2 separate regions of the Homo sapiens genome follow, and region 1 is linked to region 2. A link means that fine-mapping ties the variant in region 2 to the expression of a gene that starts in the linked region. Tissue or cell type: whole blood. Region 2 holds a variant in brackets; the other region holds the start of a gene. All regions are shown on one strand. Distances are from middle to middle.

Region 1 (8,000 bases), 49 kb after region 2:
ATGCCTGTAATCCCAGCACTCTGGGAGGGCAAGGCAGGCGGATCACCTGAGGTCAGGAGTTCGAGACCAGCCTGGACAACATGGTAAAACTCCATCTCCACTAAAAATACAAAAATTAGCCAGGCGTGGTGGTGCGCACCTGTAATCCCAGCTACTCAGGAGGCTGAGGCAGGAGAATAGCTTGAACCTGGGAGGCGGAGGTTGCAGTGAGCCGAGATTGCGCCACTGCACTCCAGGCTGGGCGACAAAGCGAGACTCCACCTCAAAAAAAAAAAAAAAAAGCCACAAAGAGGGGGTGGTGTGGGAGACCTACAAGGTTGCTCCCAGGCTAGGGAAGGCAGGTGGGAGGGGTACAAGAGAACACAACCAGAGCCGTGTCCCCAGAGAAAGGGGAAGAAACAGGATGGCAACAGGAACAAACAGTACCACTGACAAACAAGTGGATTCAAAGGCCCATCTGCTGGCTAGCAGAGCCCCATCCTATCAGAGTGCACATCTGAAAAGGCTGGCGCCTGTCCCTACCTACGGCAGGTGGGGCACTTCATGGCCCATGAAGTGGCTCTAACCACCCACTGTTGCCATCAACGTGCACTACCCCCCAAACCCTCCCCCCAAGACAAGGATTACACTTGCAGAGGGGCTCAGCTTTGCAAGGAATGTGTCCTGGGGGCTAAATAGCAGCCACCAGACCCCTGGAAAGATAATGAGGGAGACTGCCTTATTGTCGGAGATGCCCAATCAGAAAGGCAATCTCAAGGTAGCCAGGTTGGACCCATTCTAGAAGTTAAAGGAAAAGACCAAGAGTCCGGAACCTGCCCCCTCTCTTGATGGGTTTCCCCATCTGTAAGACAAAGGGGCTAGATGAGATGATGGCCAACATCTCTTCCTGCTCTGAGATCAGATTTTTACAAGGCCGGACATTCAGCTAAACAACCCACCCCGGGCCGGACCATTCGGGTCATTCTTTGCCCAAACATTAAGAGCAGGGCCATTTTTTTTTTTTTTTTTTTTGAGATGGAGTCTCGCTCTGTCACCCAAGCTAGAGTGCAGTGGCACCATCTCGACTTACTGCAACCTCTGCCTCCCGGGTTCAAGTGATTCTCCTGCCTCAGCCTCCTGAGTAGCTGGGACTACAGGCGCCTGCCATCATGCCCGGCTAATTTTTGTATTTTTAGTAGAGATGGGGTTTCACCATGTTAGCCAGGATGGTCTCGATCTCCTGACCTCGTGACCCACCCACCTTGGACTCCCAAAGTGCTGGGATTACAGACAGAAGACACGGCACCCGGCCCAAAGCAGGGCCATTTTCAAATACCTTTAGACTTTTTCATTAGGGAATTCATAGACAATTCATCACCCGTCGTCAGTACAGAAGCCCTGCGCCCCCAGATTCTGAATGTGGAAAACATGATAATGTCCTTTGCACTGTCTCTCAGCCACTAAAGTCTCATTGGCCCTCACACCAAACAAAACAACCTCACGGGGCTCCCTGGTCACTGGCTCAACAGTTGCAGCATTTTGCAGCCAGTATAGAAATGTGGCCACCAGGGGGCACTGCCCTGAAAGTAATAAATAAGAAACGGAAAAACTCTTTGGTGTTTTCTTTTCCTTCTTAGGCTTAAGTGATAAAATATCTAAAGCTTCCCTAGTGAAAACACAAAGTGGGCTTCCTCGGGTTCTAGAATGGCCCTGATGACTTCTGCCTTCTTTGAAGCCAATATTTTGGCCAAAGGAAGGCAACTAGACTTTGAAGACAACAACTCTTTCAGAGAAAGTAATGCTCTACTCCCCAGAACGTTGATAGCATAGCTTGCTCTGAACCTCCCACCCCTTTAAAGGAAGAATGTCTACAAGGTCAAGCCAATCTGCAGGTCCAGCACGAGGACCTAGTTGTGAGTCTCGGCGAAGAATATTTTGCGAGAGCCTCCTAATTACCAAGCAAAACAAGCCAACCCAATGACAAGCCTCAAGCTTGAGTTGCAGACACAAGATGACATAAATACAGACAGCAGTACAAAGGGTGCGAGGTATTCGCTGGGATTTCCCAAGTCTTACATGACTGCAGGGGGAGCTCCGGTGCCTCACATCAGAACTGGACTTCGAGAACATGCCAAAGCAGCTGCTCCAAATTTCTTTAGTGTCTTAGAATGCCCTTCCCACAAGTGAGTGTATCCGCGGTACAACGTTCAAGTACCCTTTTGTAATGTTCCAAGGGTCCTAAGACTCATTTTCAAAGCTCTGGCTTCGAGCTCCTCCTGATTTCTTCATGAATTGCTGGGGCCACTCTGCATGCCCTATTGATCATGAAGAGCCTGTCTTCTAGGGAAACCGGCCTGGGAGAAGGCAGCCAACCCCATCCCCAGACCAAGGGATAAAGAACCAGGCACTATCCTGTACAAGCTGTGCCCCTCTGGCTGCAGGAAGAGCGCCTGCGGGGCTTGCACGGGGCAAAGGAGCAGCAGGCCCTTGGGAAAGGCATGAGGCACACAGAGGTGCTGCCAGGCTCACCTGCGCATGCCAGCTCAGACCAGCCACGGGCCCCCAGGAGCACCAGGGGTTACGGAAACCCAACTGTTCAATTCTCCAAGATGTGTGGGGCCCCCACAGGGACAAAAATGCAAGTAGAGCCCATTTTCAAAAATCAGTCTAACAAGCTGCATCACAAAAGGTTTCCACCTGGAGTTTGCAAAAGGCTTTCAGAGCTAGATTCTCTTAGGCTTGCATTGAGAAAAGGGCTTAACTGCTTCTCAGAGGCAAAGCTACAGTTGTGGAGCAAGGGAAGGCCTACCTGACCCAAGACTCAGTAGTTCTGTAATTTATTAAGAACGTGATCTGTTAAACACCGGAGACTCCGCCAAGGAGCACCAGCATGGTGGGAGCAGGGGCACACAGCCCAGATGGCAGAAGGCCACTCCACACCACGGGCATTTACCCAGCACTTTCTACGCACCAGCCACTCCCTAGCTGCGGGACCCCAAGCTAGGTACCCCGCTCCTCTGCCGATCGGTCCCCGTTCTCAGACAGGTGGCCCAGAATCACCACCCTGGCCAATTTGCAGGGCTGCTGCGAGGCTCTAATGAGACAGCAAATCACCACATACATGCCAAGAATTGCTACTCGCTTCAACTGGGCTTAACCTCATGATATGCAATGACAGCCTCAAGAGCCGAGCACACGCGGGGCACATAGTAGGTGGTCCACAAACGTGGGTGCCCTTTCTTCATGAAAGGGAAGGGGACGAAGGAAGAAAAACACTCCGGTCCAAAAGTACCCTCAAGCCCTTACCCCACAGCGTGGATGCCCCGATTTCCCAGGTCCCTCCGCAACCCTCAGTAGAACTCCCACCGCGCCCTGGGCTGCTGGGGGCCTCCCCAGCCGGGTCACAGTGCACCTGAACGCCCCGGTCCGTGCCACCTCGCCCGCACCGGCCACCGCTTCCCTGGAACGCGGCCGGCGGCCGCCACCGCCACCTGGCTGCTCGGACTCAGTCTCCCCGCGCGCCGCTTCTTCCCGTTTGGCTCCGATCTCCCAAAACAACTAATGAGGCTGCACCGGGCTCGGGCCGGGGGTCACCGGGCTCGGGCCGGGGGTCCCCGGGCGCCGGCGCCGCGTCCCTCCTTACCTGCACAGCTCGGCGAAGGCCTGGAAATTCAGCTTCTTGATTTTCTTCTCGCTCAGCCAGTAGCCAACTCTCTTCCCTTTCAGAAAGGTCTGCATCTTCCTCCTCGGGCGGGGAGCCTGGGTCCGGAGGAAATCGCCCACAGGCCGAGTCTGGCGGCCGGCGCGCGCCGCGAGCGAGTGGGCACCTCCTCCCGGCGGCGGGGACGCGGAACGGGGATCGGAGCTGGGGCGCGCAGTCCTGCCGCGCGGAGCGGAGCGGGGCGGGGCGCGGCGGGCGGCCGGGAGGAGGGAGCGGCGCTCAGCGCGGAAGGCCACTGGCTGGGCCAAGCTGCCACCGCCCACGCCCCCGCCGCCTGCGGGCTCGCCCGCCCGCCCACCGGCTCGCGAGCGCCGCGCCGCCCGGCCTGCCGGCTGAGGCTGGGGCACGGCTGAGCCTGAGTCTGAGTCGGAGCTGGGGCCAGGGCCCGCAGGAGGGGAAGCCGGGCCTCCGCAGACACCGCCCCCGCCCTGCCCGCCCTCCCGCCGCGCGGGCCCGAGCCACACGCCCTCAGGCGGCGGCAGAAGCGCGGCCTCCGAGCCCTTCCTCCCTCCTCCTCCCGCCCGGGTCCTCGCCCTCTGATGTTCCCAGCCGGGCCGTAACCCCTGGGCGCGCTTGGACCCCGGCGGGGCGCACGCGGCCACTCGGCCCGGCCAGAGATCCTCACCCGCCGCCGCCGCCGCCACTTCCTCCTCGGCCTGGTCCTCGCGCGCTGCCCGCCGAGAAGGGCGGCGGCGAGCGCCCGCGCACTCGCCGCCCCTGCCCGCCGCCGCCCCGCGCTGGCCCGGCCGCCCCGCTTGAGCCCGCGGCGGCGAGGAAGCGGCGGGGCGGCCGCCAGGGGGCAGCGCCGCCCGCCGCCTCTTAAAGGCGCCGCGCCGGCCCTCGCGGCTACCCGGCGCCTGTTTGTGTCCCCGGGTGTGGGGTGCGGGGCGCGGGGCTTCCTGGGGGCGGCCGTGGCCCGGCGGTCTTACTTCGGGAAGGGAGCCGCGGTGTGGGCGTGTGTTCCGCCTGGCCTTTGGGGGCGACCGAGCCGCTGAGTTTCGGAAACGTCTCTGTACCCCCAGCAGGGTTCAGCACCCCCAAGGCAATCCATTGCAACTGCGCCCGGAAGGAGACCTTCCAGGAATTCGCCCCTTCCCTCGAGGAAGCGGACCCTGGCCCAGGATGGGGCCCCCCGGGGGGGTGGGTGAACACCCAGGGGCCCTCCTAGGCGTAGGACGTGACCACCAGTTCTCACTCTAGGTCCCCTTCACTGAGGGGGGAAGGGGCGGGGACTGGAGGCGACAGCGACAACAGCGGCCGTCCCCGGAGACCCCTTCCTCAGGGGTGCGGGTCAGCGTCGGCGCCGGGGAGTCACTAAACCCCGCCTACCCTGCCCTGCCCTATGGGGCAGCCAGGGAGCTTTCCTGCCTCAATGGTCTCTGGGTTTGGGAAGGAGAAATGGACTTCTCTCCCCAGGCCCAGGCAGGAAAAATGGATTCCCGTGGAGGGAAGGCTCAGAAAAGTTTGAGAGGAGACACTGAAGCTGGCCTTGGAAATCAAGGAGATTTTGATGGAGCAGGGAAGGGGGATGAGCTTGAATTGAGGCTGGGAGACAAGAAAAAGCCAAGTTGCCAGCGGGTGACCAAGACTTCCCTTGATCACACTTGAGTCAGGCTCCTCCGAGACCTCTTTCTGACCAGGCCCCGACCTTGGGCTCTGTCCTTGGCCTTCTTAGTCCAGTTTTAGCCAGAATCCTGCTGTCAAGAATATCTCCACGCTTGGTATGTGATCACCCTGGCCGGCCTACATTAAGAAACTCCGTCTCAAAAAAAAAAGAAAGACAAGGATCTCTCTATGCTGCCCAGGCTGGAGTGCAATGGTGCAGTCATAGCTCACTGCAGCCTCGAACACCCCTGCTAAACTGATCCTCCCACCTCAGCCTCCCGAGCAGCTGGGACTACACTGTGTTGCCCAGGCAGGTCTCGAACTCCTGGCCTCAAGCTGTCCTCCCACCTGGGCCTCCCAAAGTGCTGGGATTGTAGACCTGAGCCACCCCGCCTGGCTTCCCTGCCATCTTTAACGAGAATCTGATTAGTTTTTTTCTTTAACAAGGTAGAGAAAACGGATGGATGGAGAGTGGAAAAGACGATGGGTGGGAAACAGGACTCCTCCAGGGGGCCAGCTAGGGACGGGCACTGCATGCCTTAGGCAAGGGTACTGCGAGTTTCATAGGCCATGGGAGCCTAGAAGGTAAGTGGTGACAGGTTCCAGGGTCAGCTCTGTGGCTTAGAATGCCTGGCTCCTGGGGGGGACATGGAAAGCTGGATAAAGGGAAGATCATAGCAAGGACCCCTAGGGCCGAGGCACAAGATGGATAAAAGAAGGCTAAGGGAGGCTGCGCATGGTGGCTCATGCCTGTAATCCCAGCACTTTGGGAGGCCGAGGTGGGCACATCATGAGGTCAGGAGATTGAGATCATCCTGGCTAACACGGTGAAACCCTGTCTCTACTAAAAATACAAAAAATTAGCCGGGCGTGGTGGCGGGCGCCTGTAGTCCCAGCTACTTGGGAGGCTAAGGCAGGAGAATGGCGTGAACCTGGGAGGCAGAGCTGGCAGTGAGCTGAGATCGTGCCACTGCACTCTAGCCTGGGCAACAGAGTGAGACTCCGTCTCAAAAAAAAAAAAAAAAAAAGAAGGCGGCTAAGGGAGTAAAAACGAAGGGGATGGGGGCAGCAACTATAAACTTGATACTTGAAGTCAGCAGTAGGGATTACAGGCATCGACTTTAAATGTCCTGCTGTTCTTAGGAACTGAAAGACCAGTTGAGGCTGGGTGGTTCAGGAGGGTTCCTGGAATTCCCTCACTCCTTTGGCAAACACACGAGAGCCCAGTGTGTGGCAGAGGAAAATGGACACAAGCCATTGATTAGAAACACGGGATGAGGCTGGGCGCTGGGAGGCCGAAGCAGGCGGATCACCTGAGATCAGGAGTTCGAGGCCAGCCTGACCAACATGGAGAAACCCCATCTCTACTAAAAATACAAAATTAGGTGGGCATGGTGGCGCATGCCTGTAATCCCAGCTACTTGGGAGGCTGAGGCAGGAGAATCGCTTGAACCAGAGAGGCGGAGGTTGCGGTCAGCCGAGGTCGCGCCATTGCACTCCAGCCTGGGCGGCAAGGGCAAAACTCCATCTCAAAAACAAAAAAAAGAAAGAAAAAAGGAAACGTGGGGTGAGAGCTGAGAGGGAAATGGGAAGGAAGATGGCAATCTGTCCCATTTTGCTGCATGACTGGGGAGACTGTGGCATAGGATCTTGAAGGATGAGTAGGAAGGAGTTCAGTGGGGGAAGGAGGCAACATTCCAGGCAAAGGCGAAAACAGGTGCGAAGTTTCAGAGGGTGAAAAGGGAAGAACACCGTAAATAAGGGCACGGTAAGATGGAGATGGGCAGGAAGATGAGGCCTGAGAAATGGACCAGGGGAACTTGGGAGGGATGCTGAAGACAGTGTGTGTGTGGTCACTTCTGAACAGGAGCTGGATGAAGTTCTTTTTTTTTCTTAATATTATTTTATTTTATCTTATTTTATTATTTTATTTTATTTTATTTTTTGAAATGGAGTCTTGTTGTGTCATCCAGGCTGGAGTCCAGTGCACCTCCCGGGTTCAAGCGATTCTCCTGCCTTGACCTCCCGGTAGCTGGGACTATTGGCACGTGTCACCACGCCCAGCTAATTTTTGTATTTTTTTTTTTTTTTGAGACGGAGTCTTGCTTTGTTGCCCAGACTGGAGTGCAGTGGCGCAATCTCGGCTCACTGCAAGCTCCACCTCCCGGGTTCATGCCATTCTCCTGCCTCAGCCTCCTGAGTAGCTGGGACTACAGGCGCCCGCCACCACGCCCGGCTAATTTTTTGTATTTTTAGTAGAGATGGGGTTTCACCGTGTTAACCAGGCTGGTCTCAAACTCCTGACCTCAAGTGATCTGCCTGCCTCGACCTCCCAAAGTGCTGGGATTACAGGCATGAGCCACCATGCCTGGCCTGGATGAAGTTCTTTTGGTATCTTCATCTGTAAAGTGGGGATAGATGCCCCACCCAGAGCTGTTGAGAAGATTTAAAGGGCCAGCAGAGAACTTGCCTGGAGGACAAAGTATATACAAGGGCATGGCCATCCTCAGGCTCACAGGAAGCCCCTTATTTAGGGCTCACCCCAGGGCCCTGCATCCTTCCCCTGATTACAGCCTCCCCCAAACCATTCTTCCTTCTGGCCTTCTGAGTTGGAGCTAGGTAAGGCTCGTCCTCACTGGGACTTCCAAGGTGAACACAAATGTCCTCTGTCTCTAGCTCTCAACTCGACCACTCA
Region 2 (8,000 bases):
CCCACGGCAGGTCTGTGCTATTTGAAGTCGTAAAGCAGGTCAATGGTGGCCCAGTGTGAGGGGCTGCAGGGGCTGCCAGGCTCACAGTCAAGGCCAGGGCCTGGCCTACCATACACCAAGGCGTTTCATCTTCTCCCCAAGAAGATATACTGGGTGGGCAGGGGTCCTTGTCCCTGATGGACAAAGGAAGGCACTGAGGGCTCAGACAGCAAAAATAACCGAGGGTCCTGAGCGATCCGGCGGAATATTTGGTCGACAGGAAAACTCATCAAGTCCTGCCCTCACCAGGCCCCAAAGCCCTGGCTTAAGGGAGGGCCAGGCCTGGCATTTGTCAAGATTTAACAAGTTCAGTAAATGTGCGCCCCCACCCCACCCCCATCTCCCATCTCTCTCCCACGCCAGACCCTTCTCCAAGCCCCACTCCTTGGCCATTAGCTCAGTCCCAAAGGCATCCTTGCCCATCCCGGCTGCCGATGATCCTGTCAAAACACTGTAAATAACTTATTTCTACTTGGCAGGGCCTGCGGCAAAAATACTGCCTGGGCAAGGAAGGGAGTGAGCCAAGGTCTGCCTCCAAGCCAGGACCCACACCCTCCTGCCCAGGGACCCCTGGTCCCCCACCCACCTGAGATGGCAGAGACCCACAGTGGAGGCCAAACTCCTGCCCAGTGAGACAGGGGTGTGAGCTTCACAAGACCCCTCGAGTCATCTCAGGAGCCAGAAAACCAGTGAGCTTCCCACTCCCCACAGCCCCACACAGCACACTAAGCCCTGTCCCTGACCTCAGGCTACCCACGCTTCTCCTACGAGGGCCTGAGTTTTAGAAGGCCTTCTCACTTGCCCTCCCCTCGTCTCAATCATCCATCTCATCACCATCTGGTAGATGGGCCTCAGAGAGGTTGTGCCACTACCCAGGACTGCACAGCCTTGGAGGGATGGAGCTGGAACTAGGGAGGAGTCACTGGACTCTCACCAGGCAGGCAGTCTTCGGAGCAGAAGAGGCACTGGCTATGCCATCACACCTCTAGAATCCAATCCCAGCTCCACAGCTCACATGCTAGGCTGTGACAAGCCCACCTGTGTGAGCCTCAGTCCTCTCACCTGGCAAGTGGGGCACTAACCCTGGCACTCAGTAGACGAGGCACACACAGGAGTTCTCACTGCTGCTGCCTGGGCTGCTCATAGAAGCCCAGCCCAGACGCCAAACGCACTTTGGAATTTTTACATGCGCATTCTAGAACTCTGAAGCAATCCTACTAGGTGCTTACTGCCCAGACAACAGGGCTGGTGACCTTTAAAAAAAAAAAATTGGCCGGGCATGGTGGCTCACACCTGTAATCCCAGCACTTTGGGAGGCCAAGGTGGGTGGATCACGAGGTCAGGAGATTGAGACCATCCTGGCTAACATGGTGAAACCCTGTCTCTACCAAAAATACAAAAAATTAGCCGGGCGTGGTGGCGGGCACCTGTAGTCCCAGCTACTTGGGAGGCTGAGGCAGAAGAATGGCGTGAACGTGGGAGGCAGAGCTTGCAGTGAGCCGAGGTCGCGCCACTGCACTCCAGCCTGGGCGACAGAGCGAGACTCCATCTCAAAAAATAAAAATTAAAATTTTCGTAGAGATGGGGTCTCACTATGTCGCCCAGGCTGGTCTTGAACTCCAGGCTTCAAGCAATTCTCCTGCCTTGGCCTCTCAAAGTGTTGGGATTACAGACACAGGCCATCATGCCTGGCTGCTGGTGGCCTTCCTGCAGAGAATCCAGGAGCTCTAAATGTTCCCCCAGGACACCTGATCAAAGCCCCCTCTCAGGCCTCTGTACCCCATTCCCACCGGAACCCTGGGAGCCACCCCAGGCGGCTTCTGTAGAAGTGCTGAGTGAGCCCCATGCACCACCGCCAAGTTTCTGGGACACAGCTGCAGGGCCGGGCACCAGCAAGCCGGGATCTCCTTATAGGGTATACTCTAAGGCCATTGCATAAAGCTCAAAAAGAGAAAGACTCAGATTGACAGTCGAGCTGGAAAACAGGCCTGTGAAAGGAGAACTAGACACCAGGGCAATCAGGTCCCTGAAAGGGCTGTCTCTGCCTACCATTTGTGCAGAACATCAGAGAACTTGAGGCAAAGACGGGAGCCACTGTGCTTCCCAGGGGAGTTCTTGAGCTGAGGGTGGATCAAGGGGAAGGAGAAAGACAGAGCCAAGTTACAACTCTGGATTTACACAGCTTTTGGAAAAGTCACGATGAGTGTGCGGGGAATCCCTGGGACCTCCCCTGCCCATAATGAACTAGCACGGGAGGGGGTCATGGGGCTAGGGTCAGGGGTCAGCACTCCCTGGGGGTGATGCCTTCACCCCATCATGGCTAGACCTGGGGAGATCCAGAAAGAAGGAAAACATAAATCAGCCCATGCCCCCAAATGCACCCCAGCCAGAGCAAAATCTGCTCTAACCCCAGAGGACAAGCTGGGACCTCACTCACTCACAGCAGGAGACTCATCCCTGGTCAGCCCTGCTTTAGCCAAACCAAACAGACATAACTTATGCTACAGACATTTCTGGCTTTTTTACTCATGAAAATAAATCAAACAGAAGAGATCCTTTCATTTTGGCTCATCTACCCATCGCATCATTTAACTACACAACACACCTCATTCAGACTCACGCTTCCCTGGGCCACTGAGGATGACAATGATGGTGGTGGAGGTGGCACCAGTAAATAATCACAAACAGCTCCTTCTGAGGACAAACTAGGTAAACAGGTTCTGTGCTGTTCCTTATCTGCATGACCTCACTCCTGGAACTCTATGAGACTGGGTCCATTATTATTTCCATTTTACAGAAGAATAAACTGAGGCTTAGAGGGGGCAAGTAACCTGTCCAGTTCTAAGTCCAGGGCCCAAGTGTGCTGGACACAGCTGACTAGCTGCAGCCCAACCTGTCCCCCATTCTCCCCTTCTTCTTTAGCAACAAAATCCTGAAGTCACTTCTAGACCATAACCCAATGAAACAGCCTGAGATGTGACTTAGGTCCCCAAAGATTTAGGTCCAGAGACACCCAGGGCAGGACTGTTAGTAACAGCAAACCAGAAATAACCTAGAACTTGAGACTCTGGAGCAGAGAAATGGTTCTAGATGCTGGGACATAGGGATGGTGGGAAGCTGGTGCAGCCACTCTAACAGCAATTTCCAAGGTGTTTAAATGGCACAGGCAAATGCTCAACTGTTCCCCCAAATGCAAGTGGCAAAACTAGGGACACAGAAAAGCCTAACCTGAATGCACATCATATAGAAAAAGGAGCATATTTTATGTAAAAATTGCTTCAATAATTATCTCTGGGTTTTCATTTGTGAGCCTATCTTGACTTCCCAAGATTTCCACAAGTACATATTACTTAATGAGCAAAAGAATAATCTAGAGTTATTTTTAGCAAGCACAGACCCTCGAGGCCTGGCCACATCCTGTGTAGCACAATACCTCAGTCCTTAATTCACTCACCCAGTAGACACAGCGCACATCAGGGCCAGACCACGTGCTCCTCAGAGACCAGCAAGTCCCAGCCTCAGGAGGACACACCAACAGGCAGCTCAGCTTGGTGTGCGTGCGTGTGTGCGCGTGCATGTGTGTGTGTGTATGTGTGTGTGTGTGTGTGTGTAGGGGGCAGAGGCGTCTGCTGGGAAAGCAGGGTAGGTGTCACTGCCAAGGTGACATTTAGCAATT[C/CT]TTTTTTTTTTTTTTTTTGAGACGGAGTCTTGCTCTGTCACAGGCTAGAGTTCAGTGGCGCGATCTCGGCTCACTGCAAGCTCCGCCTCCCGCGTTCGCGCCATTCTCCTGCCTCAGCCTCCTGAGTAGCTGGGACTACAGGCACCTGCCACCACGCCCAGCTAATTTTTTGTATTTTTAGTAGAGACAGGGTTTCACCGTGTTAGCCAGGATGGTCTCGATCTCCTGACCTCATGATCCACCCGCCTCGGCCTCCCAAAGTGCTGGGATTACAGGTGTGAGCCACTGCACCCACCTGACATTTAGCAGTTCTAAAAGCATGAATAAAAATATGAGAGCAGGGAAGGGGCTGAAGAGGGAGATGCCAGGTCCTTACTCAACTGAAATACTCAGGGACGCTTCCTGGTCTTTGGAACTGACCTGAGGCAATGCATCTCCATTCCTGGCTTTGACTACGATGGTTCTGCGCCCAGCTGGACAAGGAGCACAGTCCAGGGCCCTCAGGTCAAGATGCCTCCTCCTCAGAGTCTCAGCCCTGCACCAGGCCAAACGGGAACCGACTGCTGAGGAATCCAGTGTTTGCATCCGAGTTTCTCCATCTGCACCCAGATTCCCTAGGATCACACTCTGAGTAGCAATGCTATGGATACCTTCACCCCAGAATGCCAGGACAGTCAGCTACTTTAAGAGCAGAATCTTGCTTCTGGCCCTTTCTAAAACCCCCGTTCCATCCCTTCCTATTTCCCCTGTGTACTTCATTCCATCTCTTTTCTTTGCTTTTACGTAAAATGCTTACCTGGCACGCTCCACTGAGGCCACGGAATTCTTGACATTTGACAGCCAAGCAAGGGTGGCAGGTACCAGGGAGATCCAGTCCCAACCCTGCGTGGTGTGGTGAGGAGGGCCTGGGGTTCTGGAAGCCTGCCTGCAAGAAGGCACCCAGGCACCCTGGAGCACAGGGAGCCCCACCTGCCCTGGCAGAGCTCTGTTGTCTTGACATGGGATGTGGGAACTTTTTTTTTTTTTTAAAGGATTTGCTCAAATTGACTCAGTGCATCAAAGGCTGGAGAAAGAATCACCCTAGAACTGAGTGCCACAGGCTTCGGAAGCTGCACAAGACTGCAACACGGTGACAGCTTCTATTTCTAACAGCAAACCTAAAAAGCTCAGGAACCAAAATAAAACGGATAGAAATGAAACCACTCAGAGTATGACGACAGTACTCAAAGCAACTCACGAGCATTTCCCCACGCTGTCTTCCAAAATGTGAAAAATGTGATTTTTTTTTAATGGCCACATTGGAGAACTGCTATGAGCAGACCTCATTTATATAACCCTTCCCAGCACCTCATGTATCATCATTATTAAAAAACACTATGGGGATCATGCTTTCACATAACTTTGTCTTATTTGTTATCTACATAGCCTAAGCAAATAGTAAATGATGGAGAATGAAAATAATTGTCAATGTTTAGGGGGAAAAAAATACCTGCATTTCAAATTTTTTAAAAAAACCATAAAATCTATCTTTTAAAAAAGGAAGGAGTAAGCTGGAATCCACAATTGTTAGAAACCCAAAAGTGATACAGAGGGGAGGCAAAAAAAAAAAAAAAATACTATATTCTCCACACTGAAACAATGTATCTTTCTCAACAGCCCAGTTTCATCTGTAGCTGTATTTTCCCCACTGAAATGCCACCATTAATCATAACAACAGATGAGTAAAAATCAATTAATATTCCTTCAGCATCTCTTAGGTGTCTTCAATCCTGTGCGCTGTCATCCCTTTAAAGAGGAAGGAAAAGATCCACAGCCAGGAAACAGACTCAGAAACTCAAACCCAGGTCTCTGGACCCCACAGGGAAGTGAGGCACAGCCAAGAGCAATCTGTGTCCATTACTGGCCTCAAATGACCACATGGAAACACTGTGTGCAGAGCCAGCCCCCCAAGCCCGTGGCGGTCCTCCTTGGAGATGATGGGGTCTGGGGAGAGGTCAGAGTCAGGCTCACGTGAACTTCAGAAAGCCACTGCCCAGGATATGGGTGGACCGCAAGTCTACCATGGGCTGTCCCAGCTCCAAAGACGTCAGAACCCCACAGCGATTGTTATTCCCAAAGCCCTTTACGCTTGGCTCCACAGCACACGGCAGAGAAAATCGACAGAAGGAAGGATGTTCACAGGTGTCCACCCCTACCTATGCCCCAGTGACCTGGAAATAAAATCCATCAAGAGCACCGGGGTCAGCCAGCTGGGGTACGCTGGAGAGTATGGGTGGCAGAGGGAACCCCGCTGTGGATTGATCATTTGACACTGTGTTCAGCATACCTTTTAAAAAAATGTTGGTACCATGTAAAAATATAACCTAAATAACAAGTACATTTTTAATGCTGAGATGGAGAATTTAGCACCTATAATCCTTCCAGAGATGCACACCACGCAACCACGTGAGTCCCCTCTGGCTCTGAATTCCGAGAGCAGCTACCAACACAGGCCTCCGCTGCCTGCACTCAGCACACCTATCGGAAAGCGCCAGTGCTGGCATGGGCTTTCCCTCCCTGGCGGCTGCTCCTCCTGCACCCCCATGCCCAGGCACTCCGGCCAGAAACAAGGGAGGAGTCTGGGGACTGATCCTCCCCCTCTCACCTCCCACATCTACCCAGGTACCACACCCTGCCATCTGTCTCCTGCTGCCCTCTGTCACTGCAGGAGCCCCTGGAGAGCACATCACCCCTCACTAGGCTGCAGCCACAGCCCCTCTCAGAAAACCCTGCTGTCTGCTTTCCAGTGCAGCCCTGTCTAATCACCCTCCATGTATCCTCCCCATGGCTCTTCCCCCATAGCCTCAGGTTGGAGCACCCAGCTTTCGCCTGCAGAAGCCCCTCCATGCCCCCGACACAGCACCCCATGAACAACTCACCTGGCACCGCTACTCTCTCCAGCCTGGTCTCTCACTAGCCCCCTCAAGCCTGGGGCTGTAGCCTTTCCAAGCCATTGGCAGCCAAAGGACCCCCTTCCCCAGCTGCTGTGTGTGGCCCTGGCCATGCTCCTTGTCTGTAAGGCCATTCTAACACCTCGCCTCCTGCCAGCCCCTACGCCCAGTTTATTCCATGTCAGGAGGTATGGCCTCCATCCCCTGATGGCCCACTCCTCCTTACATGCCCAGCCTTGCGTCCTCACCACTCCCCCACAGCTCAGACAGGCCTGCCCTGCCCCTGGGCTTGGGCATCCCCACGGTTTCCCTGCCAGTGGGCATCCCCACAGTTCCTTCGCCTCCAGAGGCCCAGCACCCAGTTCTGCCTCGGCCCCAGGCACATGGACCTTCCCTTGGGTCTTAGTGTCTCTTTCTCAGACTTGCCTTTTCTTGGTGGTTTGATGGTCACCCACCCAACCTCCTTCCCTGAAAGTCTGGTGCAGGAAGGGGTAAAAACACATATACAAAGGTCACCAGCAAGCCAGCCAGCACCAGCTCTGGAGAAAACACGGACAGAAAGACGTATGCCCACCATTCACTCATTCGCAAGCCGGGAGAACTTACTTACTTCCTTGCCTGCTTGAGAAACAGCCGCCGCACCAGAGACTGGGTTTCATAGTGTCTGAATTCTCAAGGAATGTGGATGGAGGACAGTGAATCTCTAACTGGCTGCTGCACTTCTCACACTTACAGCTTGCTCATTCGCACTTTAAAGTCAAACCTCGAGTCCCCTCATGCCAGCAGTCACCTTCTCCCCGATCTTTTACAGTAACTGGGGAAAGGCAGCCCAGAGAACAGGCCAGGGCAGAGGTCAGGCTGCAAAACATGCTTCCCTAAGGACGTCCAGGCTGGAGGGGGCCCGGCAGCAGGTGGGTCTTTCTTTCAGGGTCTTCCTCCACCAAATTCAGGACTATTCCAGAAAGAGGCAGTGAGTCCCTGGATGGGGAAACCGCTCCTCCTGAGCCTTCCCCACAGATTGGATCGGAGTGGAAGGTGCCCCCAGGTGACAGCACCTAGCAAGGCTGATGCAGGCCTTCTGCCTGGCCCACAGGAGAGCCCCAGCCCCACTCCCCAGATCACAGACGACCAAGGCTCCTGTGTACGGGGGAAGTAATCATAGTGCCGTGCTTGGCACTTGGTCATTTTAGCAACTAGGTGTTTTAGAAGGAAGCACAAGGACCTAGGAACTGGGTTGAGCTCTGTCAGGCCTTGCCTCTCAGTTAGGATCTGTTGGGTAGATGGGCTCATTGCCACTAACCAGACTCGTCTTCCAGGGAGCCTTCCTGATTTACCAGGCTGCGTGAGGGCCCTCC

What was found. PIP is the estimated chance that this variant, and not a neighbour inherited with it, causes the effect.
Region 1: ITPK1 starts here. The variant in region 2 is fine-mapped to the expression of ITPK1 in whole blood (INTERVAL, PIP above 0.99).

The regions. Positions count from the first base shown.
Region 1 is chr14:93,111,447-93,119,446 of GRCh38, forward strand. ITPK1 (inositol-tetrakisphosphate 1-kinase) reads right to left here and starts at 4,479. Exons shown (of 11, transcript NM_014216.6): 1 at 4,326-4,479; 2 at 3,623-3,859. The coding sequence starts at 3,717.
Region 2 is chr14:93,062,692-93,070,691 of GRCh38, forward strand. The region is part of intron 3 of ITPK1 (inositol-tetrakisphosphate 1-kinase); the gene reads right to left. ITPK1-AS1 (ITPK1 antisense RNA 1) reads left to right here and starts at 4,761. Exons shown (of 1, transcript NR_002808.2): 1 at 4,761-8,000. The variant C/CT (reference allele first, on the strand shown) is at 3,716.